Linked DNA regions of Homo sapiens: region 2 is linked to region 1. The links come from fine-mapping of genetic effects on gene expression. A gene starts in region 1. The other region holds a variant in brackets. All regions are shown on one strand. Distances are between the middles of the regions. Region 1 holds the start of EIF2A (eukaryotic translation initiation factor 2A). Region 2 overlaps ERICH6 (glutamate rich 6).

The links. PIP is the estimated chance that this variant, and not a neighbour inherited with it, causes the effect.
Region 2: its variant is fine-mapped to the expression of EIF2A in whole blood (INTERVAL, PIP above 0.99).

What each region holds. Positions count from the first base shown.
Region 1 is chr3:150,538,380-150,554,287 of GRCh38, forward strand. EIF2A (eukaryotic translation initiation factor 2A) reads left to right here and starts at 8,408. Exons shown (of 14, transcript NM_032025.5): 1 at 8,408-8,451; 2 at 13,977-14,046. The coding sequence starts at 8,424. SERP1 (stress associated endoplasmic reticulum protein 1) reads right to left here and starts at 8,117. Exons shown (of 3, transcript NM_014445.4): 1 at 7,673-8,117; 2 at 7,324-7,399; 3 at 3,619-6,119. The coding sequence starts at 7,756. The coding sequence ends at 6,079. RefSeq lists enhancers at 7,628-8,258, 7,704-8,903, 8,176-8,715.
Region 2 is chr3:150,661,881-150,677,788 of GRCh38, forward strand. ERICH6 (glutamate rich 6) reads right to left here. Exons shown (of 14, transcript NM_152394.5): 11 at 12,076-12,161; 12 at 7,416-7,571; 13 at 4,907-5,135. Among named protein-coding and RNA genes, the nearest start is that of ERICH6-AS1, 34 kb to the right of the region's middle. The variant C/T (reference allele first, on the strand shown) is at 6,756.

The sequences.
Region 1 (15,908 bases):
TGACTTTCCGGATGACGTTCATTGTCTGTGGTACCTTTCTTCTCCACTTAATCCACGAGTAATTAACAGGCAGATTGTGCACCAGTAACTAGGGCTGGAGCTAGGCAGAAACATGCTTGGATACTCCCACTGTAAAATCACCTTTATGATTTAGGCTTTATCTGCAATTACAATCTATCTCAATCCCGAATGTATTTGTGCTTTAGGATCTGCAGTTGTGCGTTTATTGGTGCTCACATGTCAAACAGAAAACAAAGTTGCAGCGTCTTGGTGGTTTACCCTGGTCTCATGGCACTTCTGGGTGCCAGAAGCTAAATGTGCTGAGTAGGGTGCTCTGTGTGGCTCCATGGATGACACTTTCCCAAAAGGGTGCTGGAGTCTCCTTTGCCCAATGTGAGACTTGGTTTGGCAGCCACACCACATCCTAAATGATAGTCAAAATGGTGTGGACTTGCAGTGGGGAATTCCTCTGTGAGAACAAGCTACCTCTACTCAGGGACTGGATTTGGTTTGGAGTATACTCGCCTGGTTTGCATGGGTCTGGCACAGAGAAGGGTGCACTGGTGTGGTGTCCTTGTACCGTCCTATACCCTAGGATGGGGCTGAGACAGAGGGCAGCTGACAGCCCACAAGCACCTGCTCTAACAGCAAGTATGGCTGTTTGACTCTTTCCTTATAACCGGACTGACCAGTGTGGTAAAGTGTCAGCTTTCTTTGATAAAGTGCTTTTTTGTTTTCTCAATGCCACATTATGAACCGTTCTCAAATACAACTGAAAGACAAATATCACACTGTTGAAGTACTTCCAAATATCAAGCCTATCCTGGAGGAGTTTGTTTAAAGGGTAAAGAAACTGAATTCTGGTGCTGAGCCCAGTCATCAACCAGAGGTCACCAAGCTTGGAAGTAGTTGGGACGACTGTTATACCAGGGTTAGGGGATTTTACAAAAAGACCTGCTTCTTAAAGATTATTCTGATATAAGGCATTCATCGATCTTTTTCACTTTATCACTCAACTAATATGTTGAACTCCCACTATATGTGTAAAGCTCTGTACTAGCCAAGGGAGTGATGACGGTAGATGAAGAAATAAAGAAAAGATATGGCCTTTGTCCTTAAGGATTCCATGTCTGAGAAACTAAGAAACAAAAATAATAAACATGTGAATGTAATAAAGCTAACTGGTCCAGAGCTGTAAGTCCCAAAGAGAGTCTTCCTGAATCCCACATCAAGAGAAAGCTTTACAGGAGAGGTGAAATTAAAGCTGGAAAGGGTAGGTAGTATTGTAACGCAGGAAAAGTGGGCAAAACAACCTTAAGTTCAAGGTATCTGAAAAATCAGGGCTAGAACAGTTCTATGGAGGGAAGCTGTGGGGGACAAGGCTGATAGGTAGGTTGTGAAGCCTCCTGAAAACCAAGGCAAAAAGAATTATTTCTTCCCAATGGCGGTGGAAAGCCATTTGAGGTTAATAAATGTTCAGATTTTACCACCATGGAGAACTCATTGAGTTTCGTTAGATTAATACATAATCTTCAAAGGTAAAAGGAAAACATTACATTCTTAATATAAAAGTTTTAAATTGCTAAAAAAAATAGAGGAGACATGCTTAAAGCATCATAATTCCTTGACATTCAACATACTAAGTGCCAATTTCATCATTACAAAACCAGTTTTCTAATCCTTGCTCTGCCATTGCTTTATTGGTGTTAGGAAGGACAGTATCTCTAGGCCATATGTCCTCAAATGTAAAATAAAAGGCCCAATCAAGATCATTTCTAAAGCTCCTAAATCAATTATTTCAGTTCAAAGTAAACTATTCTCATTCTCCGTTTGGCAGGCTTTCTCCATAACACACTGTTAGAAAATAAAAATTTGTTGTTAGTCCATGTAATGATACTGTAATGTTTTAATAATTTAAATACACAGATGTATTCTATCTGCACTGCAAAGTAGAAATCTGCACACTGGAAAATCTTCATTAAACCCTTTGTTATAAAAAGTATCTCTGGGGAGCACATTGCTTCATTTTTCGGACTACTGGACTGCCTATTAAAAATTTTTATTTTGGCCAGGCATGGTGCCTCTTGCCTGTCATCTCAGCACGTTGGGAGGCTGAGACAGGAGGATCACTTGAGCCTAGGAGTTTAAGAGTAGCCTGGGCAACATAGCAAGACCCCACCTCTATTTTTTAAAAAATTAAAAACAAAATAAAATTATTTATTTTACACTTTTCAACAACACAGATTAAAAATTTTTTAATTTTTTTTTTTTTGAGATGGAGTTTCTACTCTTGTTGCCCAGGCTGGAGAGCAATGCTGCAATCCTGGCACACTGCAACCTCCGCCTCCCAGGTTCAAGATATTCTCCTGCCTCAGCCTCCCAAGTAGCTGGGATCACAGGCATGCGCCAGCACACCCGGCTAATATTGTATTTTTAGTAGAGACTGGGTTTCACCATGTTGGCCAAGCTGGTCTCGAACTCCTGATTTGAGGTGATCCACCCGCCTCGGCCTCCCAAAGTGCTGGGATTACAAGTGTGAGGCACCGCGCCTGGCCCAGATGAAAAATTATTAAAAACTCTAGCAAAATAATTTTTAAAAATGTAACCTTAAATGTATCACAGTGGTAACATTACTAGCCCTTGCATTTTTGTGCTGTACAGGGAGCACCACTAGTAAATTTGTCACTAGTTTTTTTTAAATGCACCCATAAAAGGACAGATTCCTTTTTCCTTCGAATTGGCAATTAAAAAAAAATTAAAGAATTTCTGTAAAAGCAGAAGCAAAGAGCTCGTGAAAACAGAAGTGTTCTAAGTGTAAGTTTTGCAATCATTCCTATTACCATAAAGTACAAGAAACTTTGGTTCGTTTCTGCTCTCCCCCAATTAGCTCTGTGATTGAAAAAAACAAAAAACAACAAAAAAAATTTATCTGGCTTTACTTGTCCTTTGACATACTTATTACAATTGTAGTTATGCTTTCATTTTGTCTGTTCCTTCTCTACTGGTCTGAGATATTTCAGTGTCAGGACTATGTATTCACAGTTCCATACCTGGCATATAAGTTGTTCACTGACTAAAATGCATGTTTTTGTTAATCTGCGAATTGAAGCAGTTGGATTAAATTTTCCATGTCCCTTCTTTGTTTCTGTGATATATATTTACTTTGAATTACCTAAGCCTAGGCAGTTAATTTTTCCCTTAATTTCTAGCCTTTTATTGCTCATTAATCCTCTTTCTAAATAAGGACATGTGTCCTAATTCAATTTGAAAATAAAGTAGTACAAGTAGCTACTGTGGTACTAAGTAAGTTTAGACAGGAAATGCTTCTCTGAGGGAGTGCCATAGAGTTTGCTGTTGAAGCCAATCAACTCCTACCTCTTGAAGTTACGGTTTGCATCTAAAAAATAAATTTAAAAACTACAAAGGCAAGTAAAGGCAAATCAAACTTAAGAACAATTTCTAAATGGAGAATCTGATGCTCTAAGTTTCACAAATGAAGCATAATAAAGTTTTGCTGGTGAACCTACTAAGCCCAGGAACATAATCCAGCTCTCCATGGTTGTCCTTTGTACCAACAGAACTCCAGTAACCTCAGTGAGAAGAGTCATGGCCCTGCAGTTGACTATCCACATTTCTTTAATGTAAGTCAAAGCCCATCACAATGCATCCTGTTACAATGGAAATCTTATTTTTGGAAGTCCACTTAATTATTTTGAGCAACATTATATACAACCCAACAGATACAATTAATTGACAACTTGTTGAAATGTTAGAGTTAAACCACAAAGAGTAACTGAGTAATGTTGACAACCCCAATATTTATTCTCATACTGTGCTCAACATTAGATGATCTATAAAATTCAACTGGCAAAGGGAGATCAAAGAATTGTGCTTCATCTTGAGCTTGAATTGGATGACAAGGAGATTAGGAAATCCTAAGTGGAAAAATATTCAAATCATTGTGCTTTCTATATATTTTTCTTACCACCTATTTCCAGTTATAAACCTTACATCTGTGCCTCTGCATACCATTTAAGTACAATACTAAACATTCTTTAAAATCATTTTCTACTAACTATAAAAGGTACACTCAGATAACTGTAAAATCATTTCCGTTTAGAAGAAAAGCATCAAATATTCAGGGAACTTTATTTTTAAAGAATAAATCAAGTAAGACACAGCTTTCGTTTACCTAAACATGCATAATCCAACCTGAATATAAACTGCACTTAATTGGTGAATTACACATGAAATACAAAGGGAATGCAATTTTACATATGTAAAATGATTGCTAGCTATAGCAATTTAACAGTCAAATTTATCAGAACATTGTACATTAAAAAACACAAACAACAACTTAAAGCCAAATATCTATAGTAAACCAAGGAAAATTCTGATATGGAATGGTTTGACTAAAAGCAAAGAATAAGGCACCTGCTATGAATTTAGCACAACCATAAAACAGAATTAGTTAACCAAGACACTTGTTTCAAAAAGGGAAACAAGTACAGAGACTGATTAACTGGGTGAGAAAGGCAAGTAACAATTTAGTTAAAAACCTGCTGGCCCAAGGTCAGTTGATTCATTCCTTATTCCAGAATAGTTAAGTTCCTGAAAGTCCTTAACCACTCTGCTCCCTTACTGTTCTCCATGTTTGAGGGTATCAGAAGCCCCCTGTGAGGTTCACGCTGTGTATAGACTAGGTAGCAGATTTCCCTTCTGTTCCTCTTAAAACAGCTTATTTTAAAAGAAATATCCTGAGGCAATTAACAAAGCAAACACAAGCAGCTTTCTTTCCAACGCATTAATACATAGACACTGCTCAGGTTTTTTTTCACCAAGTTATGGCTAAGTATACAAATAGCCAATACTTGCAGTTTTCAACAGTACTAGAAAACCCAAAACCTGCCCTATGACCCTCACCCTTACCATTAGTAAAACGTAAATTTGATCAATCATAACCTATAAAGTCATATAACAAAGGGAAGACTAAAGACTGATCATTATCAGTAAATCCATTCAATTCCAGATGCCACTTTAGGCTGATGTGTCTAGTACCCTAATGATTGAAAAATCATTAATCTAGAAAAAGCATTTGCAAACTAAGGATAACTTCGCAGTTGATGTGCCTTTTTTTGCTATTAAAAGTGCTATTTAACATGCTAAAATGTCTTATGGCACATTGGACTCAACAGCATGTTCTGATGAGGCATCCATTTTTAGCAGTATTTTTCCCTAGAATTTTGTTTGGCATAGTAAACCCCTTTGATATATTAAAATAGTTCTGGTGAAATAAATGTAACATAAACAAACCTTCCCTGACTGACTTCACTCCACCACGGTAGCTTTTAGTGAAACCACAGTAACTGATTAAGTCAGAAAACGATCAAGTTTTTTTTTTATGGCATCTTGGGTTACTATACTCACTCATGCAAAATCCAAGGTAGTGTAATGGAAACAATATTGGTAAAATAGATGTTGTGGCTATAAGCATCTCCCTTTATATTAGACATTTAGAAGCTTTTAAAACTTTTTAGATGCTAAAGGTTGTGGCAAAACTAGGCTGTGTAGTTGTTCCATTTATAAGCACCTTATTACAGGACAGTTACATGAACCTATAAGGGAGTGTGCTTTCAGTTCAAAAGAGTAATAAAGTGCCTAGCTATATAAAAACCACAAGACTTCAAATTGTAATTTAAGCTAACTGCAGTTATACATTTGGGTTAACAAAATCTAGACCCTGTCTATGCAGAGTTAGACTAATTGTTCATACTGTTTTAATAACCACATAAAAAAACTTACTCTTAATTGACTGAATAAGTAGGGTCCACTACTGTATCTTAACAATCAAATTTTATTGCTTTATTCATGTGGTGTTTTTTGCAAGGCACTGTGGTATGGACTAGAAAACTTGGAATGACTCATGAAGAAACCTTGGAATGACACATGAAGCATGATAGGAAAGTCATTCTGAGGCAGGATGCTTTACTGAATTGTTTTCAACCAGGGTATCAAACATCAGGAATGAGTTCAAGTTAAAATTCACAGGAGAATGGAAACATCTTAAGGTCAGTCACTTCACATGCCCATCCTGATACTTTGAATAATCTGGAAAATTGCTGTAAAAAGAAAGAGCAAATATTAAAATAAGCTTTGAATAAAATAGGTCTGGTGTCTAACAAATATTTATTAAGGTAGCTGAAGAATCCAAAGGTACTCTTACATTTGCAAATGGTACATAACTTCAGTATAATAAGAAGTGAAGACAGGCCTGTCTGAATAAATAAAACAATGAAATATCCCTGAGTTATTTTTTTATCTTAGCTTCGCTGAACTTTATGTCTAAGTATCCAAGAGAACTTGCAGATAAGTAATCATTTTACAAAGAACTTAAAGCACCAAAGCCAACAGGTTTTTCCAGCATAGAATTATTTTGGTTTATAAGCATCCTTTTAAGGCCTGGCCTGTAACACATGCATGTTTCCTCATTCTCACAAAGCTGAAATTCAATCATCTTCAGGTTATATAAACTGCTTGGCTCTCATCCATTTATCAGGAAAGCTTCCAATTGGTAAGTGAAGAAGAAAGGCAAAGTGAAACGTTAAACAGAAATCTCAGTAATTTTAGAATGTGGAAAACAAACATCTACTTCAATATTAACAGCTTGCATATTAAAATGATAAATGAAGAGAGGAAAGACCTTTTTTTTGTAATCTATTTGCAAAGGCAAGTGTCTGTTACTCTTAGGGGACAGCAGGCTACCCCGACACTTTTTTTTTAAACCATGTATCAAACGTTTCTTTTATTAACCTAAAAACATTTGACTCACACATTAAAATGCCAATCAGGTAATTTCCTCTATAGTGAATCAATTCTTTGCACAAGCTTTATTTTATAAAATATACTCAATTTTGACATTAAGACATTAGATTCTGGTATATGTTAAATCAAGTTCTAACATCTATAGTACATATTTATAATTTTCTTTGCAAAGACTGATAATGGAGTTACAAAACATTCTAAATTCTCATTTCGTTAGGTTTTGTCCGGTCTTAACATTTATTCCAACTGGATCATTACCAAGACCTGACCTCCTTTTTGATCTCCTGTGAGTACAAATTAAGCTGGGAGAAGTTTCTGGAGCACCACCCTCTGTGCATATGTGGAACAAGTAATTTGGTTCAGACGAAACAGAATTATGTGGAGTCCTCGGCAGGTGGGTTGAGAACTACGCAGGTAGGACTCACTACTGACCGGTCACCACGTCATCCCAAATCCTTTCAACCCAAGACTCTACCTGATGGGAGCCCCCAAGCCACTTACCAGAACCACAGACAACAAAAATGAAGAGAGCCAATAACCAGGGTCCTACAGACGCCTTCTCTTCGGGGGCATTTCTCTGCAAAAGCGAAAATCCACCATTTCAGATGCAGAGAAACCACTCGGACCCCAGGCTCCCACGCCTGCACGCCGGTCGCCGGCCCCCTCACCTCACAGGTCTCCCCTTCCGTTCCCGAGCCCCCACAGTCTGGCGGTTCGCAGACTCGGGCCCCTACCCCTCCACGGCACCAGCCCACGGTCGGCCGGATCCGGGAGAAAACGCGACGCGGCCCCAGGGACCCGGACTCAGCTCCGGCTGCGGAACGCAGAGGGGCGCCCGCTCTTTCCTTACCGAGGTCTTGGCGACGTTGCCGCGCTGGGTGATGTTCTTGCTGTGCTTCTCGTTGGCCATACGGATCCTTTGCTTGGCGACCATCTTCGCGGCGCCACCACCTGCCCCGGCCACCCCTCGGACTCGCTCACTCGCCTGCCTCCTCTGGAGCCGCTGCGAGGCTCGGCTCGTGGTGCCCGCGCCGCCGGAGCGCCGAGGTTCTCAGGCCAGACGCTAGCTACGGCCGCTGGGCCTGGGCGCCGCAAGCGCGAGGTCTGAGCACAAGCCGGGCGCCGGCCGCCGACTGACTGACCGAGCGGGGCAGGTGCGCAGGAGGAAGAGAACTGGCCGCCGGGTCGTTCTCGCGCCGCCGTCGCCGCCGCTTTGGCCGCCGCCGTGAGCGCGGAGTGAAAGAGGAAGGAAACGCAACGCAACAACGGGAATGTGCAGCCCGCCGCCTCGATCTACTTTGGGTTCGGCTGCCAACGTCAGCACTAGACGGACTCCGCCCCGCGGAAGTGCGCGCCCCTCCCGCTGGAGAAGGAGGGCGAAAGCAGGCGCACCCTCCCAAGCTCTGTCAAGCGTCGCCCTAGATTTGCGCGTGCGCGTTTGGGCGCCTTTTCCGCGTCACTCCGTAACCGGAAGTGAATTGGCCCCGAGGCTGATGGCTCCGGAAACACCAATTCGCTGTCTCCACGCATGAGGAGACGTGTAGGGGCCGGGTTCGGCCCTGGTGAACTCTCACCCGAGCGGTTTCTCTTTCCGGGACAACATGGCGCCGTCCACGCCGCTCTTGACAGGTGAGTTCTGAAGAAGCGAGGGACTCTCTTTCTTCAGACTAGTTTCTTATTTTTGTCTTTGCCTTTGAGAACTACCCGAGGAGCCGGGGAGTCTGATCTGCCTTTTCTTGTGGCTTGCGGAAAGGCCAGACTGTTGGCTTTCTTGATATAGCGTGGCAATCGGAAGTGAAGTCTCCGCCTCTGGGCTTTCGTATTCCCCCTCCCTTTCACCCATCCATCATTCTTGCCTGCGGATTCATCTTCTACAGAAATAGAAGAAGGGGGAGAAAAACAATGTGCTAGTTGAATTTGTGACACATGGGTCTGCAATACTGGTGTTACACGGGCCCTTGTGAAGTCATTTAGGTCTACAATAAGAACAAAGACAAACATGAGTTAGTCCTCTAGAATGATCACGCACTTTAAATACACCTGGACTTAAGTAATTCCAGATTCTGGCCTTCCTGCCTTAATGAGGTTTGTAGGACTGAATAGGGAGAGTGGAGCTGTAATGCAGGTTTCAAATGATGAAGGTGTGGTTGGGAGAGGGTGTAGCAGTGAGCATGATAGAGATATTCTAGCAACATTTGATTTTGAAATGGTTATGAGCATATTAGAAATAGAACATTAGAGGACTCTTGAAATTTTGAAGCTAAAGACTGTAGTGTTGGAGGAGATAATAAACTTAGATTGGAAAATGCTGGGGAAGTTGCTTTACTAGGGTGTGGCTAAGAGTCTGCATATGAGTATTACGTAAGGAAAAGAGAGTCGGGAAGGAAAAGAAGGTTTTGGTTAAGTTCTGATAACTATATAGAAGGAAAAAGTCATTAAGAGAAAGGTTGTCTGCATTTAAGGAGGGAGGCTATTCCCTCCCTTCCCCCCCGCGAAAGGAACCTTAAAACATTTTTGCACTTTTTGCCAGTCTACATTTCTATTTTTACATTTTAAAATCTTTGTTATTAAGCGCCATGCCCACTGATGCTCAGTCTGTCTTCTGCAGTTTAGTCATCATTTATCAAACGCCGAGTATAATCTTCTAGATAATATACCAGGCAAAGACTGTTTAAAAGGCAAAGTTACATAATAAATTTTTTTTTAGGTTTGTAAAGGTAGCTTGTTATTCACAATTTTTAATACTAAATGCTTATTTGAACTCTAATGAAAAAATTACATTCTAAAATCTGATAAATAACCCCTCCTTTAAAAATGCCTACAGTAGGTAGTTCCTCTCTGCTTACAGGGTAGATTCCATCCTATGTAGCATAGTTATGTAACCATTTATAATCTTTGAATTGCTCTTGAGACTCATTTATTTCCTTGCCATCCCATCTTATTTGGTGCTCCATCAATACTGAACTGCTTCTGAGTCCCTTTGAACAACCTGTTTCTTCAGTCTAGTACTATCCTATGCCTCTTGTTGATTTGGCAAACTCTTTTTCATCTGTTGAAATTAAAATTCATTTTAGATATCATTGCTCTGTGAAGCCTTTCGTCACTCTACCCAGATAGAGTCAGTCACTTCCTGGGCTATTTTTGTACCTGAAATATATTTGAAATTTTATTTCACTTACTAAGTAGGATAATTAGACATTCACTTGCCTTTCTCCCCTGCTAGACTGTGAGTCCTTCAATGTCAGCGACAGGGTCTTATTCATATCTGTCTTCTCAGTACTAGTGCAGTGCCTGGTAGACAATAGATACTCTAAATCAGGGGTCCCCAACCCCCTGGGCCGGACTGGTACTGGGCAAGCATTACCACTTGAGCTTCCCCTCCTGTCAGATCAGTGGGGGCATTAGAGCCTCATAAGAGCGCAAACCCTATTTTGAACTGTGCATACAAGAGATCTAGATTAGATTTGTCTGTTTAGACTATCCTTTTAAATTAATGAAGGATAGCCACTTTATAGTAAATTAACCAAGGATGACAATTGTCTTACAGTGCTTAAAATCAGGGACTTTGTAAGAGCTTAAATGTTGTCTGTTCAGTCTACTCTTCATATTCTCATATTCTTAGAGGCCCAGAGAGATTAAGTGGTCCGATTCACACTGCAAATTGGCAGGATTAGGATTATACTTATTCAGATTGTTCAACTCTGTGGTCCATTTTTCTTTCACTAGAACAAACTGTTTAATCTTTTAAACATTCTCAGTGTACATATTTCATTCAACAATAGATTATTTTACTTCCAAAATCTTTTGTTAAATTTAGACTCGTGGGATTTTAGAGCTGTGAATAATTTGCAGATTAGCCAGTAAATTTTGTTAACCCCAACTCTTAATTGGGAGTGACAAGCCAAAGCAGGTGAAAAAGGGATTTTTTTTTTTAAACTCGTATAACCTAAAAGCCTCAGTACTGCTAGATCCAGATACTCACATGGCTTCAGAAATCTGTTTTTCTTTCTTTCTTTCTTTCTTTTTTTTTTTTTTTGAGATAGTTTCGCTCTTGTTGCCCAGGCTGGAGTGCAATGGCGCGATCTTGGCTCGCTGCAACCTCCACCTCCCAAGTGCAAGCAATTCTTCTGCCTCAGCCTCCTGAGTAGCTGGGATTACAGGCGTGCACCACCACGCCCAGCTAATTTTGTATTTTTAGTAGAGTTGGGGTTTCACCAAGTTGGTCAGGTTGGTCTTGAACGCCTGTCCTCGGGTGAGCCACACGCCTCTGCCTCCCAAAGTGCTGGGATTACAGGTGTGAGCCACCATGCCTGGCCAGAAATCTGTTTTTCTTCATCTGTAGGTTCTTGCTTTCCTCCAGATTAAATTCATCTTTAAACTGACATTCAACCAAATGCCCAGCTCCAAAGGAAAGAACACATTTTTGCCAGTAGTCTCAGCAAAAATCTCAAGGCTAGCTGCCTTTGACTTTGCTTGGCTCACCTTTGTATCAGTCAACTTTTAATCATGTAGTCAGGACTAAATTATCTTCCCACTCCTCGATACTCCTCAAAAGAAAATGAGCGCCTCCTAAAGAAGAGGAGCTGGTTGCTAGGCACATAAAACAGCAATGTCCATTACGTGAAATTCACATTGTCTAATCTGCTTGACCAGTTGAAGTCACAGAGATAATTTATTCAAAATTGAGTGATTTTCCTAAACTAATACATAGTTCAGTGAATGTAAGAGTTGGGAAAAGTATCGTATTTTAAAGATGACTACACCCCTGCCATGGGATCCTTGTTTATTGAAGCCCTGTGTTTTTCTCTCTCTAACTCAGGCCTAGAGCAATAAATAGTATATGAATGTCTAAAAAGGCTAGTAAGCTTGGAAAAGATTATGTAGATGTTTAATGTATTTCACACAGCTACTGTGTGAAACTGGCGTTTATTTGTTGTCTTAAAAGAACTGCTTGCATTCTAGATTTTTCTTTCTGCTAGAACATATTGCCAATCCCATTTGATTGAAGAGGGAAATCACTAAAAACAGGGAATCACACAAACTCAGAATACACTATATTAAGCTAACTACGCATTGTATTTAGTTTCACAGATACTTGTAACTAAAAAGGATTCCTTGTTAGAAAGTTACATGTAGAAAAAAATTGTTTCAGTATTGAGAAGTTTTTTAGTCCCTATTTATTTTTGCTTTTATTAGTTTAAAACAGTTTATGTTCTGTTATGGACCTGATTTTGTGTTTTTTTCTAATAAACTTTGTATCACAGCTTATCAGGAGTAAATTAAACTGTATATGCTTTTATTAAATTTATTTAATAGAAAAACTAATTAAATCTAGCAAGGCATCTTAGAAGTACAAAATGTCAGTTTGGGCCAGGTGGCTTACAGCTGTAATCCCAGCACTTTGGAAGGCTGAGGGAAGCAGATTGGATTGCTTGAGCTGAGGAGTTTAAGACCAGCCTAGGCAATGTAGTGAAACCTCGTCTCTACAAGAAATATAAAACTTAACATGGCTTGGTGGTGGGTGACATGATCATGGTTCACTGTGGCCTTGACTTCCCAAGTCCAGGTGATCCTCCTGCCTCAGCCGTGCGAATAGCTGGGACTACAGGCATGTGCCACCGTGCCCAGCTAATTTTTGTAGAGACAGCATCTCCCTATGTTGCCCAGGCTGGTCTTGAATTCCTGGGCTCAAGCCATCTGCCTGCCTCGGCCTCCCAAAGTACTGGGATTACAGGTGTGAGCCACCACGCCTAGCCTGAGCCCTATTTTGTTTTCCAGCTTCATCATCCTCTAGCCACACAGGCCTTCTTTCCATCCCCTTGACGCTCTGTCGTTTTTCTTTCCATGGGGTTTTTGCACTTGTTAACTGTTCTCCTTGCTTGTTAACTGCCATTGATCCTTTACATCTCAGTATACAAAACACTTAAGGATGCTTTCCCTAACCTTCCATTTTTAGGTTAAAACTCTCTTTTATACCCTCAGTGGTACCATATACCTTTCCTTTGAAGGACTAAACACAGGTATATGATTCCGTATATTTGGCCAATTATTTGATTACTGTTTGCAAAGTTCAATGAGGTCAGAGACAAGGCTGATTTTCTTTCCTATTATTTCGCCAATGTTCAACACAGGGCCTAGGAGGTAGTTTGTTCGTTTTTTTCCCACTAAGCATTTGTTGACTAAATGAATCTATTTATTTGGTTCAGCTTTAGAAGCATTTAATTCAACCATTTAAAAAAGTATAGTCTAGGCTAGGTGCGGTGGCTCACACCTGTAATCTCAGCACTTTGTGAGGCTGAGGAGGGAGGATTGCCTTAGCCCAGGAGTTAGAGATCAGCCTGGGCAACAGTGAGACTCTGTCTCTACAAAAAAAAAAAATAGCCAAGCAGGGTGGCACATGCCTGTAGTCCCAGCTACTTGGGAAACTGAGCCAGGAGCATCACTTAAGTCCAGGAGTTTGAAGTTGCAGTGAGCCTTGATCATGCCACTGTACTCCAGCCTGGGTGACAGCAAGACCCTGTCTCAAAAAAATAAATAAATTTAAACATAGAAATAAGAAGTATAGTCTAGTTCTGTAGATGATTATTTAATCTTGAACTTTGTTTCCACTTAATTTTTTAGGCTATTACTGTCATTGGGGCCTTAATAAATGAATATGTCTCATTCCACTTGTTCTCTTAGTTTGATAAATTGTGAATATATTAATATTGCCTTATATTTCTAAAAACTTTAAACATATACTTTTTTTATTACTTTATATAAAGCATACAGCTATCCTGTGTTCTGATATTTCCATTTTACAGATTAGGTCACAGATTCAGAGGTGGTAACGTATCCAAGGTTCCACAGGCAGTTATAAACTTAGGTCAGGCTCTGAATTCATGTCCTCTTTACCACAAGACAGCTGCCTTTCTTTCAGTGGTGACAAAGTTTCGAGTTTTATTTAAAAAGTTACGTATTTCTCAGCAATTATATGATTTTATGTAACAGAGTAAGAAAATATGCCCTTTTGTTGCTAATATTCTATAGTTCAATGAAATATTTAATGATTTCATTAATATTTTGACTAAAGCTGCTTTTTTAAAAAACACATTTGTGTTAACTGAGTCTTTATTAACAAAGTAATTGTGGTTCTTTTTATTTTACTTCTTTAGTCCGAGGATCAGAAGGACTGTACATGGTGAATGGACCACCACATTTTACAGAAAGCACAGTGTTTCCAAGGTATGATTTATTTTGTTAAGTAATGTTATAGGGAACATACAGTACAATCTAAAATGGTTTTGTTGGTGGTGTATTTTGAACAAGAAAGGAAAAGAACAGATGAACTCATTTTTATTGTATAATATTTACCGAAGATGAAAAGAATACATATTCTCTATCAAGGAAAATGATCTTCAGATCTGAAAATAGTAACTTAAGCCTATTTATAAGGTAGGGGGAACAATACTAAGAAAAAGTGTAGACACTAGTGTAATTGAATACAAGCCTTTATTTTACAAGAGTTGTATCTTAAGGAATGAGAAAAACTTGCAAATTTGATAGCCAAATCATGGCCAGTAATCTTAGTGAAATCATAATGAAAAAGATATTAAAAAGGGAGGACATATATATGCACATAGTATATAGCTAGCTAGATTAATTTTTTTTTCCCCAAAGAAACAATGGACAAGTAAACCAAAAACTAGTTAAAAATGCTTATCTATAGGGGGAGAGAGTTACAGAATGCGGGGGAGAGAGTTACAGGATGCAGGGGACACATCTGTGAAAGAGCTTTGGTATAGTTTTGACTTTGGACCATATAATTGTTTTAAATTTAAAAATTAAATTAAAAGCTGGGCCCGGTGGCTCACGCCTGTAATCCCAGCACTATGGGAGGCCAAGGCAGGCCAGATCACCTGAGGTCAGGAGTTCAAGACCAGCCTGGCCAACATGGCAAAACCCCATCTCGGCTAAAAATACAAAAATTAGCCGGGTGTGGGGGCAGGCGCCTGTAATCCCAGCTACTCTACTCGGGAGGCTGATGCAGCAGAATCGCTTGAAACCCGGAGGTGGAGGTTGCAGTGAGCCAAAATCAGGGCATTGCACTCCAGCCTGGGCAAAAAGATGAGACTCCGTCTCAAAAAAAAAAAAAAAAAAAATTGGGAAACTAAAATAAGTGATTCTAGCTTTATATCAGGTTGGTGGCATAACCATGTGAAGACCTGCAAAATTCTTTTTTTTTGAGACTGAGTTTTGCCCTTGTTGCCCAGGCTAGAGTGCAGTGGTGCAATCTCGGCTTAATGCAACCTCTGCCCCCCAGGTTCAAGCGATTCTCCTGCCTCAGCCTCCCAAGTAGGTGGGATTACAGGTGCCTGCCACCATGCCTGGCTAATTTTTTTGTATTTGTAGTAGTGACAGAGTTTCACCGTGTTGGCCAGGCTAGTCTCAAACTCCTGACCTCAGGTGATCCACCTGTCTCATCCTCCCAAAGTGCTGGGATTACAGACGTGAGCCACCATGCCTGGCCTAATAGTTTTCTTTTTAACTGAAAGTTGATATTGTCATTTGAATCTACTATAGGATAGAGTAAATTAATTGTATTAATGTTGTTAGGCACCAAGATTTTTCAGCATTAGAGTGAAAAGATAGACTTGCCTATATCAGTATGAACTCATGATTTCCTTTCATAAAACATTTGCATTTCCTAGTTCTGGCCAATGAAAAGGCCTGGAAGCAGTGATAACACAGTAGCAGTGAATACCCCATCCTCACAGATTGTGATCTCTAAATACAATTCTTCACTAAAAGGAACCACTTCCTTGGAGAAGTGGTCAACTCTAGGTCTGGGACAGAAAATGTACAAGTTGAGGTAGCAACTTTTGTGCCAGAAAGCAAAGCTATAAAAGACTAATGAGATTTTGTTAAAGGGTCGTAGGAAGCAACTTGAAGAGATTCACACCAACCTAAGATGGGAACATTAAGAATTATGAATAGAAAGATAAAGCATGTCAAGTATATAAATGCTCCCCCGAAAAATCCCCCCTCCGTTTAAACCTAACTGGTCAGCATTGGTGGTTGATGGAGTCCTCACTCATTACTTTGAA
Region 2 (15,908 bases), 120 kb after region 1:
TAAAAACAAACAAACAAAAAAACCACTGAGTCTGCTAGGTTGAGGAAAGGAACACAATCCAACTATATGTGGTTTGCCCGAGAACATATAACTCAAAACTACATTAAAAAGGTTGAAAATCAAAGGATGAAAAAATATCAAACAAACGCTAACAAAGAGAAAGCAAGTGTAAGAATTTAACATCAGATGGAATAGCACTTAAGGTAAAGGCCACTAAAAGGGAAATTAGGAATAACACATGTTGATAACATTACTACCTTTATTGTCAAAATAAAAACAAAACCCTCACTAATACACTAGGGCGCGTAATGGGAACAACTGAAGAGCGAATGAGTGAGGGGAAAGAATGGGCTGGCCCTGGCGAAAGGTACAACTCACAAAGAAGAGAGTCAGCATCTTTAATTTCCTGATCACAGAGCTTCAAAATATATACGGCAAAAGTTGATTGAAATACTAGAAACAATGAACAAGTTCACAACCATTTTGGGAAACTTTCATACATTTCTCAGAAGTAAACCCAATGACACAAAAATAAAAGGATAGAGAGGGAGGTGTGGCTAGAACAACTGGACATAGAATTTTGTACCAATAAACTGTACAACTTTTTTGGTTAAATATACATGGAACACTTATAAAAATTATGTAACCAACCACAAAGAAAATATCAATATATTCTAAACAGGAAGGAAAAAACTGCAAGTCATATTTCCTGACCATTTTGAAATTAACAAGAGAGGGGTAAATCTTTCTATCTATTTGAAAATTCAGTGACTACTGCATTGAAGTCAAAATGGGTATTCTAAATTATTTAGAAGTGAAAGAAAATGACAGCACTATATATTAAAACGTGTGGCAAATGACCAAAGAGGCACTCAGAGTGCTAGGGAGAAGGTGGGGGTGGGTGTGGCTGGTTTTGATGGGTTGCTCAGAAAAGGACGCTGCGCAGAAGCCTGAAGGAAGTGAGGGAACAGCCACATGCTAAATGGGGATAAAACATTTTAGGTTGAGGCGACAGCAAATGCAAAGACTCTGTGACAGGAACATGCCTGATATTTTCAAGGAATAGCAAAAAGGCCAGTATGGCTGGAACAGAATGAGTGAGATAAGATAATACAGAGAGATTATTCAGAGAAAGAGGTCCAGATTGTGTACAGCATTGCAAGTCTTTATAGGGCCTTGGCTTTTACTCGAGTAAAATTAGAAGTCCCCGGAGAGTTCTGACCAGACTTACGTTTTCAAAGTATCATTCTAAGTATTGTGTTAGAATAGACTTTGGGAAGGCCAGAAGCAGGGAGACTTATTAGGAGGCTATTGCAATAATCAAGCAAGAGATGGATCAGGTAAAGAGGCAGACAAGAATGATAGCACTGGAAAATGTGAGAAGTGTGAGACTCTGGAGGTATTTTGGAGGTAGAGTTTACAGATGAGTTGGTATGGGACTGTGAAACAGCGTTTAGAGTTGTGAAACTACTCCCGAGTTTTTGTCCTGAATAAGTGAAAGAATGTAGTTGCCATTTTCTGAGATGGAGAGGACTGAGACTGGATCAAGTGTTGAAATCAAGTTCTGCTGTGTTAAGTTTTTTCTTTTTTTCCTAACAGGGTCTTGCTCTGTTGCCCAGGCTGGAGTGCAGCAGCACAATCACGGCTCATGCAGCCTTGAACCCCCTGCCCCCACCCCGCCAATGGTGGGCTCAAGTTATCCTTTCACCTCAGCCTCCCAGATAGCTGAGACCACAGGCATGCGCCACCATGTCTGGAGAATTTAAAAAACGACTTTCATAGAGATCGGGTCTCACTATGTTGCCCAAGCTGGTCTCACACTCCTGGGCTCAAGTAATGCTCCCGTCACAGCCTCCCAAAGTGCTGGGATTACAGGCATAAGCCACCGCGCCTGGCCTGTGTTTTTTTTCATGCCCCCTTAGAAATCCAGATGGGTATGTTGAATTGGAATCAGAGACTTGCAAGTCTCAAGTTCATAGGAGATCTACCTGAAGATACAAATTAAAGGGCTATCAGCATGCAGATGATATTTAAGGAAGTGAGACTCAATGAGATAATCTGATAATATAATCAGATAATGAGATTATCTGAGATAATCTGAGGAGTGAATATAGAGAAAAGACCACCCAAGGACAAGCTCTGGGTTCCTCCAATATTTAGAAAAAGGGGAGATGAAGAGTAATCAGGCCAGAAAAATGAGAAGAAACAGCCTGTGAGGTACAGGGAAAATCAGGGGAGAATAGTCTTGGAAGCAAGGGAAGAAATGATTCCAGGAAGAAGAGATCATCAGTGTTTAATGCCACTGAGAAGTCATTAAATTTCATATAAATTTAATATTTATATTGAATTCAATATTCTTCAAAATGTAGACACAAATAAATCTTCAATACTTACTAAGTGGGAAACAAAAACAAATAGGAACCCCCATCAACAATATAATCTGTATATTATCTAATTTTTATGTTTTAAAAAAGATGTATAAAATAGGCTGGGCACGGTGGCTCACGCCTATAATCTCGGCATTTTGGGAGGCCCAGGTAGGCAGATCACCTGAGGTCAGGAGTTCGACACCAGCCTGGCCAACATGGTGAAACCCCGCCTCTACTAAAAATACAAAATTAACTGAGTGTGGTGGTGCACGCCTGAGCCCCAGCTACTCAGGAGGCTGAGGCATGAGAATCGCTTGAACCCGGGAGGTGGAGGTTGCAGTGAGCCAAGATCACTCCACTGCACTCCAGTCTGGGCAACAGAGCGAGACTCCATCTGAAAAAAAAAAAAGATGTATAAAATAATTTATAAATACATAGTAAGAAGGAAGGTACACACTAAATTTTGTGTGGTGCTTACTTTGGGGAAGGGAGTTAGAATAGAAGAAGAAATAAAGGGAATCTCATTTTTTAAAAAATTATCTTTATTTCTGTATTGTTTGAATCTTTAAATCTTTAAATATAAAAATATATTCACAAGTTGCTTGTAATTAAAAAAAAAACCTAAAGGGTGATTATGAGAACAATGAGAAAAGTAAAAAACTTTAATAATGAACTCTTCCTTTTGCATCAAAATGACTCTTTTTTGATTAAAATTAATTTCTAAGTGGGGAGAGGAAGGGAGGTGCAGGGGTGGGGGAAGGAAGTAGAGGGAGAGAGAGAGGGGAGAAAGAAGTATTTTTATATTTTGTGTAAGAATGTATTTACTATGGATGTAATGTAACAAAAGGAGGGGATACTGCAGATTTCTAACCAAGAAAGAAGTTTGTCTGGAGCCTAAAAATTTGACTGCAGTTTCCAGACTTACTGAAAGGAACTGGAAAAGTGCTTAGCACATTGTAGACCCTCGCTCTATGTTGCCTGAATTTGAAATCTCCCCTTTGTTTGGTGGTCATGAGATATTCCTTCCTGTGTTGAATATTGAGATTCTATTTCCACATACTTAAAAGTTGAAGGCACTTTTGAAGTTTGGAGCTATGTCTTCCTTTAAAAATCAATGAAACAGGCCTTACATGGTGGTGTGCCTGTAGTCCCAGCTATTTGGGAGGCTGAGACAGGAGAATCGCTTGAACCCGGGAGGCGGAGGTTGCAGTGAGCCAAGCTCGCACCACTGCACTCCAGCCTGGCGACGGAGAGAGACTCCATCTCAAAAAAAAAAAAAAAAAATCGACGAAACAGGCCGGGAGTGGTGGCTCATGCCTGGAATCTCTGCACTTTCAGAGGTTGAGGCAGGTGGATTACCTGAGGTCAGGAGTTCGAGACCAGCCTGGCCAACATGGTGAAACCCTGTCTCTACTAAAAATACAAAAATTAGCCGGGCATGGTGGTGGGCGCCTGTAGTCCCAGCTACTCAGGACGGTGAGGCAGGAAGAATTGCTTGAACCTGGGAGGTGGAGGTTGCAGTGAGCTGAGATCGCGCCACTGTACTCCAGCCTGGAAGACAGAGCAAGGCTCCATCTCAAAAAAAAAAAAAAAAAAAAATCAATGACACAAAGGTCCTTAAAGTTTAAGGGACCTGTTCAAAGTCACACACTATATGTGTTATTTATGTATATAGCTATACATCCATCTCTATTTGTATCCATCTCTATGTCTATATTATTTTATTTAGTGCCAAGTACCACCCTTAGTACTTTGCATTCTCATCAAATCTTCACAGCAATCTGTAAGGTCGGAATCATTATTCCATTTTATGGATAAGGAAACTGAAGTTCAAGCTCACTCAGTCAAGTGGCAGAGCTGAGGTTTGAAACTACAGAGAATCTGCAACCTGAATTCCACGTTCTTAACCATCGTGCATTATTGCCGGTCACTGAGAGTGTACTCAGGGCTGTGCCCTGGGAGAGGCACTGGAGTTACAGAAGTCAACAAGATAGAGATTCTTCCTGTCAGGAGCTTGCCATCCAGTAGGAACGGCAGCACTGTTCAACAAGCACGGGGATGGTGGCAAGTACACAGAAAACCCACAGAAGGATGTGGTTGAGGCTGACTGGGTGAAGGACTAGGAGGTCTGGGAAGTGTCTCTAAGGAGACAGGGCTTATGATTGGTCTTGAACATGATTCAAACTCAGGTCTCCTGACCCAACCCAAGTCTCTCTACCATGGCGGGGAGAAAAACAAACACAATACGAAATCTTTAAACTAAACCCCCAGAGCAGCACTACTCTGGCACAGAGCAAACACTCAATAAGTGTTACTTGGATCTGAGTCTGAACTAAAAGGAATTTCAGAGTAAGAAACAGTAAAGCCACCTCAATTCCATATGAAGCTTTCATTACATGTTTTTCCATTGAATTCCAAAATCCTAGTGGACAGTAGATTATGCACTAGTGTAATCTATCAGTAATAATACTAACAAAAGTTAGTTTACTCTTATTATTATTCTAAATGCTTTAAACTGTTTTTAAAAATGTACCTACCTTCACTTTGGTTCCAACACTGATTCTTGCCTGTTGGCCCATTGCTAGAAAAGTTATAGAAATCTTGTCTTGTTCTAAGATGCGGACTCCAATATAACGGTTCAAAGCCAGAAAGACAGGTTTAAATGAAACAAAGGGTGAGGAAGTGATGGAATTTGACCAATTCCAAGCCCTTATTCTGTTGCCGGCTTGATCTGAATATTGACCTCCCAAGATATTGATGTATACCCTGGTCAGGAAGGAAATGTAAATATCATAAACAGTAACACTGTAATTAAATACTGGAATTATCCCTGTCACTTGCTAACCAAGGGGAGTAACGGTTTATGCCAGCGATTAGCAGGAGTGGTGGAAACTTCAGGTAATCTTAGGAGTGATAATACTATGACTAAATTCTACACGAATCTGAAGTACTGTATCCTGTTTGAGTTCATACTGATAAACTAAAATGGGTCCAAAGGATCAGCCTGGGATGAAGGAGTCTGGAAGGTTGAAGAGGGAGCAGGGAAGGCTTAGTCTGGAGAAAATGAGATACAGAAGAGTAGATTAATCCTGAAAGAGGAGGAAAGACCAGTGCTTAGATTTTCACCACACCGAAATAAAGACCTGTGGCTGTAAATTCTGGGGAAGGCTGTGTTGACCTCAGTACAAGAGAGCTGTTTTCTGGCAATTCCCAACTAGGAGCTAGGAGTCCTTCCAGGAGTCCTCCCATCATGGCTGAATGTGGGGGCAGAGGCTCAGGGAACACCTCTGTGATCACTGCAGTGGAGAAGAGGTCTGTGACAGAGCAAAGGTGGACCTTAGACCCACGAGGCGACCCCATCTCTTCAGACCATGAATGCCTTACATTTTACTACATCACGTTTAGCCCCTCACCATCTGAGATCTGGCAGCACTAATCGCTGTGCCATTCTATTCAGTTATCTCCTTCTCATACCCTCTTACCATCCCCACCTTGAGGAGAGACAGTAGATATAGTGTTCTGGGTACTCAGAAAGTTGGCTTAATTTGATAATAAATTATTTTTTGAAAACTAGATGACTTGGCCATGGGGACCCCTAGCTAACATCTCATGTTAGAGATGTTATTGTTATACCTGTATATAACTTAAAGGAAAAGACCTCTTTCTAAAAAGTTCAAAAAGTTTAAATTGTATTTGAAGTTAGAACCCAAATTTCACTTTGTCAGGCTAAATGAAATAATATGAAGTTACAGAGTATATACATAGTAGGTTAAATTGGACCCAGTATTGATCAGTGGTAGTAATCTAATAACAAAAGCACAAATGAGAAACTGAGGTGATTATCTGATTGTGTCTAGGAAGGGAAGATTTAGTTTTATCTTGAAATCTGGGTGAAAATAATATCCAGCTAAAATTATCTGGCTAAATCAGTCCCTTGTTTATTTAGTAAACATTCTTTGAGTCTACACTATGTACAGATGTGCTGCTATGTAGTAGCAAAGATTCAGGATGTGCCCTCAAGGAATGTCTGTCAAGTAAGGGAAATGGACTCACTACACAAGAGGCAGAGAGGGCTATGAGAGTATCAAGGAGCCATCTCAGGGTGCCTCGGAGTTCAGTTTATGGGGCAGGGGCTTCATAAAACCAATCTGGAAGAACCGATTGGTTTCCAGTCTAGAAACCAACGAATATTGGTGACAGTATAGCACTGCATCAAAGGTAACATAGAATTGCTGTAGAATCCTGAAAGATAAGTAGAAAGTTTCCAATATACATGGTGGTAATGAATTGACTACTGCTGTGGACGAAAAACACAAATAGCTCGGTATCCTAACTTTCTGAAGGACTAGCAGTATATAAACTTCACCAATTACTGGCAGAGGTTCC[C/T]GAGATGAGATTGTTATACCTGTATATAACTTAAAGGAAAAGACCTCTTTCTGAAAAGTTCAAAAAGTTTAAATTGTATTGGAAGTTAGAACCCAAATTTCACTTTGTCAGGCTAAATGAAGTCACAGAGTATATACATAGTAGGTTAAATTGGGACCAGGATCTTAATTTCTCTGGAGATTTTGTGTGTATGTTACTCTTCTTGCTTGTGGCTATAGGAAGCTTACTAGTTAGGAATGTATCTCAAACAATAACAACATAGTGTATCAACTGTCTATTGACAAGTTGTTTACATAGATGAAGCAGAATAACATCATCAGGGCACAGGCTCTAGAGACTGCCTCAGTTACATCCCAAATCCCTAGAGTTACCATATCATTTATCAAGTTTTTTTGTATGTTGTAATTATATAGTTCATATATTCTTACTATGTATAGAAATAATATGATGAGCTTTATTTTTATAATTGCTTGGGATTTTTCCACTGAAAAGCATACGGAATGGTGTAAACCAAAAATGTCTCTGAGTTGAACATTACCATCTAAAGAACACTAACTTAAATAAATCTTCTGAAACCCATTCTTATCATTTAAAAAGAAAAAACAAAATTTCCCAGAACAAAAGCCACAAAATGGCAGCAGCAGGAACCTAGAAGCTTACCAGACATTTCCATTGGGATGATAGCAGGAACTTCTGCCAGAGGAATCCAGCACTGCTAGGATAGCAGGGTTAGTGGGCATATCTTCTTGGACTATACAAGTAAAACCATTTACCTTGTTGGGCACTCGAATGATGGCTAGGTTTCCAGATGGATAGCTGAGATCAGATAAGGTCATATAAATTGTTCTAATGCTCCTTGACTATTCTGGGAACAAATTCAATTTATGAGAGAGCACTCTGAAATCATAAAGCATTCTGAAAATGGGAGGTACTATATTAATACAAAAGATTTTATGCTTTTTATGTGGATCAGAATATACTCATGAGATGCAAAAATCCTCAACAAAATCTTGCAAATGAACTGTCACAATATAAAAAGGATTACGCACCATGATGAAGTAGGGTTTACCCCAGATATGCAAGGTTGGTTTAACATCTGAAAATAACTTAATATACCATATTAATAAAGAGCAAAAAACACAAGGTCATCTCAACAGACACAGAAAAAGCATTTGACAAGTTTCAGCCCTCTTAATAATAAGAAAACTCAATGGATTTCAAATAGGAATGAATGTCCTCAACCTGATAAAGAGTATCTACAAAAAGCCCACAGCTGGGCTGGGCATGGTGGCTCATGCCCATAATCCCAGCACTTACGGAGGCCAAGGCAGGAGGATTGTTGAAGCCCAGGAGTTCCAGACCAGCCTGGGCAATATGGTAAGACCCTGTCTCTACAAAACAATTTTTTTCATCTTCAGAATTTTGATTTTTTTAATTTAAAAAAACCCACAATTAAAACTATACTTAATGGTGAAAGATTTAGTGCTTTCTTCCTAAGATCAGAAACTAAACAAAAATGTCCACTCTTACTACTTCTATTCAACATCGCACTATTAATAGATGTTCTGGCTGGGCGTGGTGGCTCACACCTGTAATCTCAGCACTTGGGGAGGCTGAGGCGGGTGGATCATGAGGTCAGGAGATTGAGATCATCCTTGCCAACATGGTGAAACCCCATCTCTACTAAAATTACAAAAATAGCCAGGCATGGTGGTGTGCACCTGTAGTCCCAGCTACTCAGGAGGCTGAGGCAGGAGAATTGCTTGAACCTGGGAGGCGGAGGTTGCAGTGAGCCAAGATCGTGCCACTGCACTCTAGCCTGGGTGACAGGGCAAGACTCCATCTCAAAAAAAAAAAAAAAAAAAAAGTTCTAGCCATGGAAGTTTAGGGAAAAAAAAAAGGAAATGAAAAGCATCCAGATTGGAAAGGGAAGTAAAACTGTACCTATTAGCAGATGACATGTTCTTGTATATAGAAAATCCTAAGGAATTCATAAGATAATGTATTAAACCCGATAAATGAGTTCAGCAGGGTTGTAAGCTACAAGATCAATATACAAAAATAAATTGTATTTCTATACACTAACAGTAGACATTCTAAAAATGAGATTAAGAAAGCAATTCTATTTTCAATAGCATCAAAAGCAATAAAATATACTGAAGATAATTCACTAACTCTTAATACTCATTTCCATATCCAGGCTGGTTAGAAGTCCAGAAATAAACACAAGATTGATTCTAAATCATTTTGCAAATCAACCACAGCCTTCAAGAAAGTTAAGAGGAATAAAGTCAGGGCATGAAATGATTAATAATAAAAGTTGGAAAACTGTATATTTTTATATGGTTTTTATACAGACACAGCCTGTAGTCCCAGCTGCTTGGGAGACTGAGGTGGGAGGGTCACCTGAGCCCAGGAGTTTGAGGCCAGCCTAGGCAACATAATAGGATTCTGTCTCTAAAAACTTTAAAAAAATTTTTAGGTCAGGTAAATTATTTAAAATTTATTGATGTAATTAAAACAAAACCTACACACTCTCATAAGGTCTAGGGAACTAAAACTTCATTATGCTTCCTATTCTGTGAAAGTCATTTTTCTGGCTTACTATTGGGGTTTAAGTAAACACTTACGAAACGATGACCAAAAATGACTTTCTTCTACAGGGGGAGGCTCTCAGTTCATGAAAAGCCTCCTCATTTTTTTGCTTCTTGTTTTTACTTTCCTCAGATATTATGAGGATCTGAAAAGCTCAAAAAGTTTAAATATTAAATGAATGACCTGGCCATCAGGCAGAAAGTCCAAGTGATCAATAACTTGGTGTTCCATGAAATGGATATTTAATTTTGGTATTAAAAATTGTCCACCACTCATGGGTGTGTAAACTGGTATATATTTTCTGGGGTGGAGGGATGGCAAAATCTATCAAAGCTTTAAAATGTCCAAATTATTCTTCCAGAATTTCTAGCCCTATATGTTTATTTATTTATTTACTTATTTATTTAATTTTTTGAGATAGGGTCTTGCTGTGTTGCCCAGGTCAGAGTGCAATGGCACGATCACAGCTCACTGCAGCCTCCACCTCTCTGGCTCAGAAAAATCCTCCCACCTCAGCCTTCCAGGTAGCTGTAACTACAGGTGTGCACCACAACACCTGGCTAATTTTTTGTATTTTGTTGTAGACACAGGCTTTCACCATGTTGCCCAGGCTGATCTCAAATTGCTGAGCTCATGCGATCTGCCCACTGTGGCCTCTCAAAGGGCTGGGATTATAGGCATGGGTCACCATGCCCAGCCTCAACCCCTAGGTATTTAATTCAAGAAAATAAGTGGTAACTATGCCACAAAGTATGCACAAAGCTGTTTATTTAGCTGTTGTGTATAATAGCAAAAATTGTGAAACCACTTTTGTTCAGTAATAGGGGATAGGTTAAATGAATTATAGTACATCTATATAATAAAGTACTATGTGGTTATAAAACGGTGTTGCTACCTGTGGATGGTTTTTTGGGGAAAAAATGTGTTGTATCTTTATATTTATTGCATATCATATATTTATAACATTATTGTATAATTTCATTATGTAAAGGAGTCAGAAAATATGAATAAACAAAGAATCCATTTATATATACATATATATATATATGCTCATACACAGAAAAAACATTTTAAAAAACCCCATAGGCCGGGTGTGGTGGCTCATGCCTGTAATCCCAGCACTTTGGGAGGCCAAGGTGAGCAGGTTACCTGAATTCAAGAGTTCAAGACCAGCCTTGGCAACATAGCGAAACCCTGTCTCTACTAAAAATACAAAAATTAGCTGGGCGTGGTGGCATGTGCCTGTAATCCCAGCTACTCGGGAGGCTGAGGCAGGAAAATTGCTTGAACCTGGGAGGTGGAGGTTGCAGTGAGCCAAGATCCCACTACTGCACTACAGCCTAGGTGAGACTATGTCTCAAAAAACAAACAAACAAACAAAAACCATATATTTTTCTTTTTCTTTTTTTATTTTTCTCTTTTCTTTTTTTTTTTAATTGCTCTTCGTGGAGCAGGGCTACTCCATAGGAATTGTGTTCAGAATAGCCAAAAAAACATATATTTTTAAATGCTGGCCAGACACAGTGGCTCACACCTGTAATCTCAGCCATTTGGGAGACTGGGGTGGGAGGATCGCTTGCACCCAGGAGTTCAAGACCAGCCTGGGCAACATAGAGAGACCCCATCTCTACCAAAATTTAAAAAATTAGCCAGGTGTAGTGGTGCATGCCTGTGGTCCCAGCTACTTAGGATGCTGAGTTGGGGGGACTGCTTGAACCCAGGAGGTTGAGGTTGCAGTGGGTCATAATTGTGCCACTGCACTCTAACCCGGGCCTCACAGTGAGACCCTGTCTTAAAAAAACAATAGTAATAAAATGCTAACATCTTTTCTTTGGGTGGTAGAATTTGAGGGTAGTCTCTCCTTCCTTCCTTCCTTCCTTTTTCCTTCCTTCCTTCCTTCTTCCTTCCTTCCTTCCTTCCTCCCTCCCTTCCATCCGTCTTTCTCTTTCTTCCTCTCTTTCCTCTCTCTTTCTTTCTTTCTTGGTCTTGCTCTGTCATTTAGGCTGGAGTGCAGTGGCATGATGATGGCTCACTGCAGCCTTGACCCCTCGGGCTCAAGCAATCCTTTCACCTCAGCCTCCTGAGTAGCCAGGACTTCAAGGTGTGTACCACCACACCTGGCTAATTTTCTTATTTTTTGTAGAGATGAGCTCTCACTATGCTGCTCAGGCTGATCTCAAACCCCTGGGCTCAAGTAATCCTCCTGCCTCAGCCTCCCAAAGTGCTGGGATTATAAGCGTAAGCCACCACACTAAGTTCCTTTATAGTTTTGTTTTATCTTTCTATTTATGTCTTTTTAGTTAAAATTTCTATTTTTCAATTACACTGGATCTTTATCTTTTTCTGTGTTTTGTTTGTTTGTTTGTTTGTTTTTCTGAGACACGGTCCCACTTCGTTGCCCATGCTGGAGTGCAGTGGCACAATCTCAGTTCACTGCAGCCTCTACCTCCTGAGCCCAGATGATCCTTCTACTTCAGTCTCCCGAGTAGCTGAGACTACAGGCATGTGCCATCACGCCCAGCTAACACTTTGTGGAGACGGAGTTTTGCCATGTTGCCCAGGCTGGTCTCAACCTTCTGAGCTCAAGTGATCTGCCCACCTCAGCCTCCCAAAGTGCTGGCATTACAGGTGTGAGCCACTGCACCCAACCATGTATTTCCTTCCTTGAGCTTTCTTTTTTTTGAAGTAATAAAGCTAATAAAAATAACTTGTTGAAAGAGGATACAATATTTGTGTTGTCCCATCTGGAAATGAAGTCAGAAACTTGCTCCCATGTTTGTAGTGCTTCTCTAAGAGCTCATTCCTGACAACCTATACACCACAGAAAAGAAAAGACACTTAATTGTTTCGGACATAAAGTAGTAAGTACGACAACAATGGACATCAGCTGGTTACTAGACAGTCATACAAATCAATTATTAATTTAAATGTTGGCCCTGCTTCAACAACAGGAGACAACCCTTAGCAATTATTAACAGATTGTCCCTAATCCTTGCAAGTATAACTTGATAAAAATCCTTCTGGTAGAAATCTGACATTACATATCTATTTTAATTTTTTTTTTTTTTTACTTTATACACGTTACTAAAAGAACAAAACAAAAGCAGATAAAAACCAGCCCCAGCACAATGTGCAGTGCCATTGCTATCATAAATCAGATATTCATGCATGCATGAGTCTGTTTCTGAACTCTATTATGCATATGGATTTCCTTGTTTATCCTGCCCCAATACTATACTGCCTTAATTACTATATTTTGTAATAGATCTTAATTTCTGGTAGAACACATCCTCCTTTCCTCAGCCTCTTCTTCTTCAAGAGTGTTTTGGTTACTCTAGGTTCTTTATATTTCCACATACATTTTAGAATCAACTTGTCAAGACTTCCCTTCCCCCAATACACACACATATGCAATCTTGCTGGAATCTGAGATTATACTGGATCTATGGATCACTCTGGAAAGAATGATCAAAGAGTGTCATCTTTAAAATATTTCCTCTGCCTATCCATGAACATTAGGTCAAATTTGGTAAATGGATTGCTCATATTTTCTATAGCATTACTGCCCCCCAACCTTTTTTTTTTTTCTTGGTCTAGTAGTCAATTATTGAAAGAGGTAGTGCTGGGCGCAGTGGCTCACACCCATAATCCCAGTACTTTGGGAGGCTGAGGCAGGTGGATCACCTGAGGTCAGAAGTTCGAGACCAGCCTGGCCAACATGGTGAAACCCTGTCTTCACTAAACATAGAAAAATTAGTTGGGCGTGGTGGCACACGCCTGTAATCCCAGATACTTGGGAGGCTGAGGCAAGTGAATTGCTTGAACCTGGGAAGCAGAGGTTGCAGTGAGCCGAGATCATGCTACTGAACTCCAGCCTGGGCAACAGAGCAAGACTGTCTCAAAAAAAATAAGAGGTAGGCTAAAATATCTCATTATGAATATGGTTTTCTTTATTTCTCCTTTTACTTCTGTGAAATTTTGCTTCACATATTTTTGAGGCTGTGCTAATATGGACAATGTATTTTGTAATGCTATATCTTACTGGTGGATTGAAATTTTGTCAATTAAAAAGTGATCATCTTTATCTTTATTTTATAAAGTGATCCTCTTATCTTTATCTCACACTTTTTTTTTTGAGACAAGAGTCTTGCTCTGTTGCCCAGGCTGCTGTGCAGTGGTAAGATCTCAGCTCACTGCAACTTCCACCCCCTGGGTTCAAGTGATTTTCCTGCCTCAGCCTCCTGAGTAGCTGGGATTACAGGCATGTGCCACCACGCCTGGCTAATCTTTGTATTTTTAGTAGAGATGGGGTTTCACCATGTTGGCCAGGCTGGTCTCAAACTCCCTACCTTAGGTGGTCTGCCTGCTTTGGTCTCCTAGAGGGCTGGGATTACAGGTGTAAGCCACTGCACCTGACCTAGCTTACACTTTCTTGAAATATATTTTAACTGGGTATAGAATTCTAGATTGGCCATTGTTTTTTTTTTTTACCACACTGAAGACATTCCATTGCCTTTGAGCCTCTATTGTTGCTGTTGGGAGGTCATCTGCTAATCTAATTGTTTTCTTTTAAATGTAACCTGAACTTTTTTTCCTCTGCTACTTCTAATAATTCTTTCTTTCTTTCCTTTTTTTTTTTTTTGGTCTTTGGTTTTCTGCAGTTTCACTATGATGTGTCTAGAATTTTTTTTTTTTCTCATACTGCTTGAGATCACTGGGATTCTTAAACCTGTTGATTGGTCTCTTTTATCAGTTTTGAAAAATTATCATCCATTATCTTTTAAAATATTACCTCTACCTGATTATCTTTTTTTCTCTTCTTCTGGGATTTTGAACAAATGCACGTTAGACCTTTCTTTTTATTTTTGTTCCATACACTCTCTCTTGTGTTTCTTGCCTTTTTTAATCCCCATAATGAGTTTTGATATTTTTTCTTTTCAACCTTTCTTCCTGGGCAGTAGTTCTTTCTTTAGTGGAGTCTAACCTGCTCTCAGCTTTCATCTTTTAAGTTTTTAATTTTGATTGTTGTATTTTTCATTTCAGCTGTTGCAGTTTTCATTTTCATTTCAGTTCATTTTTTTCCATTTCAAATTTGCTATGTCAGTTTATAGTTTTCTGTTCCCTTCATATATCTTCAAGCTGATCTTTTATTTTCATGATCACGGTTAGACTTCCTCATTTTCCAAAGTCTTTTCAGGTCTCTTCTTATTAGATATTATTCCTCTAGATTTTTAGTTGTATTGTTAAGTTTTCTTGTGTTCTTGGTTATTTTTCACTGTGTGCTGGTAACTGAACTTGAAAAATAATTTGTAGGTGTGATTTGAAGGTGGAATTAGTGACCGTCCTCCAAAGATAGTTTGGATTTACTTCTGCCAGTCACCTGGGTTTACTGACAGCCCTTACATTCTTTTGGTTTGTTTGTTTGTTTTGAGATGGGGGTCTTGATCTGTCACCCAGGCTGGAGTGCATGATCATAGCTCACTGCTATCTCAAACCCCTCAGCTCAGGTGATTCTCCTGCCTCAACCTCCCAAGTAAGTGAGCCTACAGGCATGTGCTGCCATGCCCAGCTAATTAATTAAAAAAAAATTTTTTTTTTTTTGAGACAGAGTCCTGCTCTGTTGCCCAGGCTGGAGTGCAATGGCGCGATCTTGGCTCACTGCAACCTCTGTCTCCCAGGTTCAAGCAATTCTCTGCCTCAGCCTCCCAAGTAGCTGGGATTACGGGTGCCTGCCACCTTACCTGGCTAATTTTTGTATTTTAGTAGAGATGGGATTTCACCATGTTGCCCAGGCTGGTCTCGAACTCCTGAGCTCACACATTCCACCCATCTTGGCCTCCCAAAGTGCTAGGATTACAGGCGTGAGCCAACACACCCAGCCAAAAACATTTTTTTAGAGATGGGATTTTGCTATGTTGCTCAGGCTGGTTTCAAACTCCTGGCCTCAAATGATCCTCCCACCTTAGCCTCCTGAGTAGCTGGGATTACAGGTGCAAGCCAGTTTGCCTGGTTCACCCCTTAAATTCTATATCTCCCAAGTTAAACAAACCAGGTCTCAGTAATTTAATTACGAGAGGTCTATTCTGAGGGACTATACTTACATAGAAATGTACTTACATACACGGATATTTAAGGAAATGGTATTTAGTATAGCAAAAAAATTGTTAAGAATCAGTATGTCCGAGAACAGAAAAATGGGTTAAACTACATGATAAATTATATAGCTATGAAAATAATATTAATGTAAACTATATAATATCATGAAAAAAAAATTTTTTTTTTTTGAGACAGAGTTTTGCTCTGTCACCCAGGCTGGAGTGCAGTGGCACAATCTCGGTTCACTGCAACCTCCACCCCCAGGCTCAAGGGATCCTCCTGCCTCAGCCCCCCCAAGTGGCTGGGACTACAGGTGCATGTCAACATGCATGGCTAATTTTTCTTTATTTTGTAGAGATGGGGTTTTGTCTTGTTGTCCAGGCTGGTCTTGAATTCCTGGATTCCAGCAATCCGCCTGCTTTGGCTTCCCAAAGTGCTGGGATTAAAGGTGTGAGCCACTGT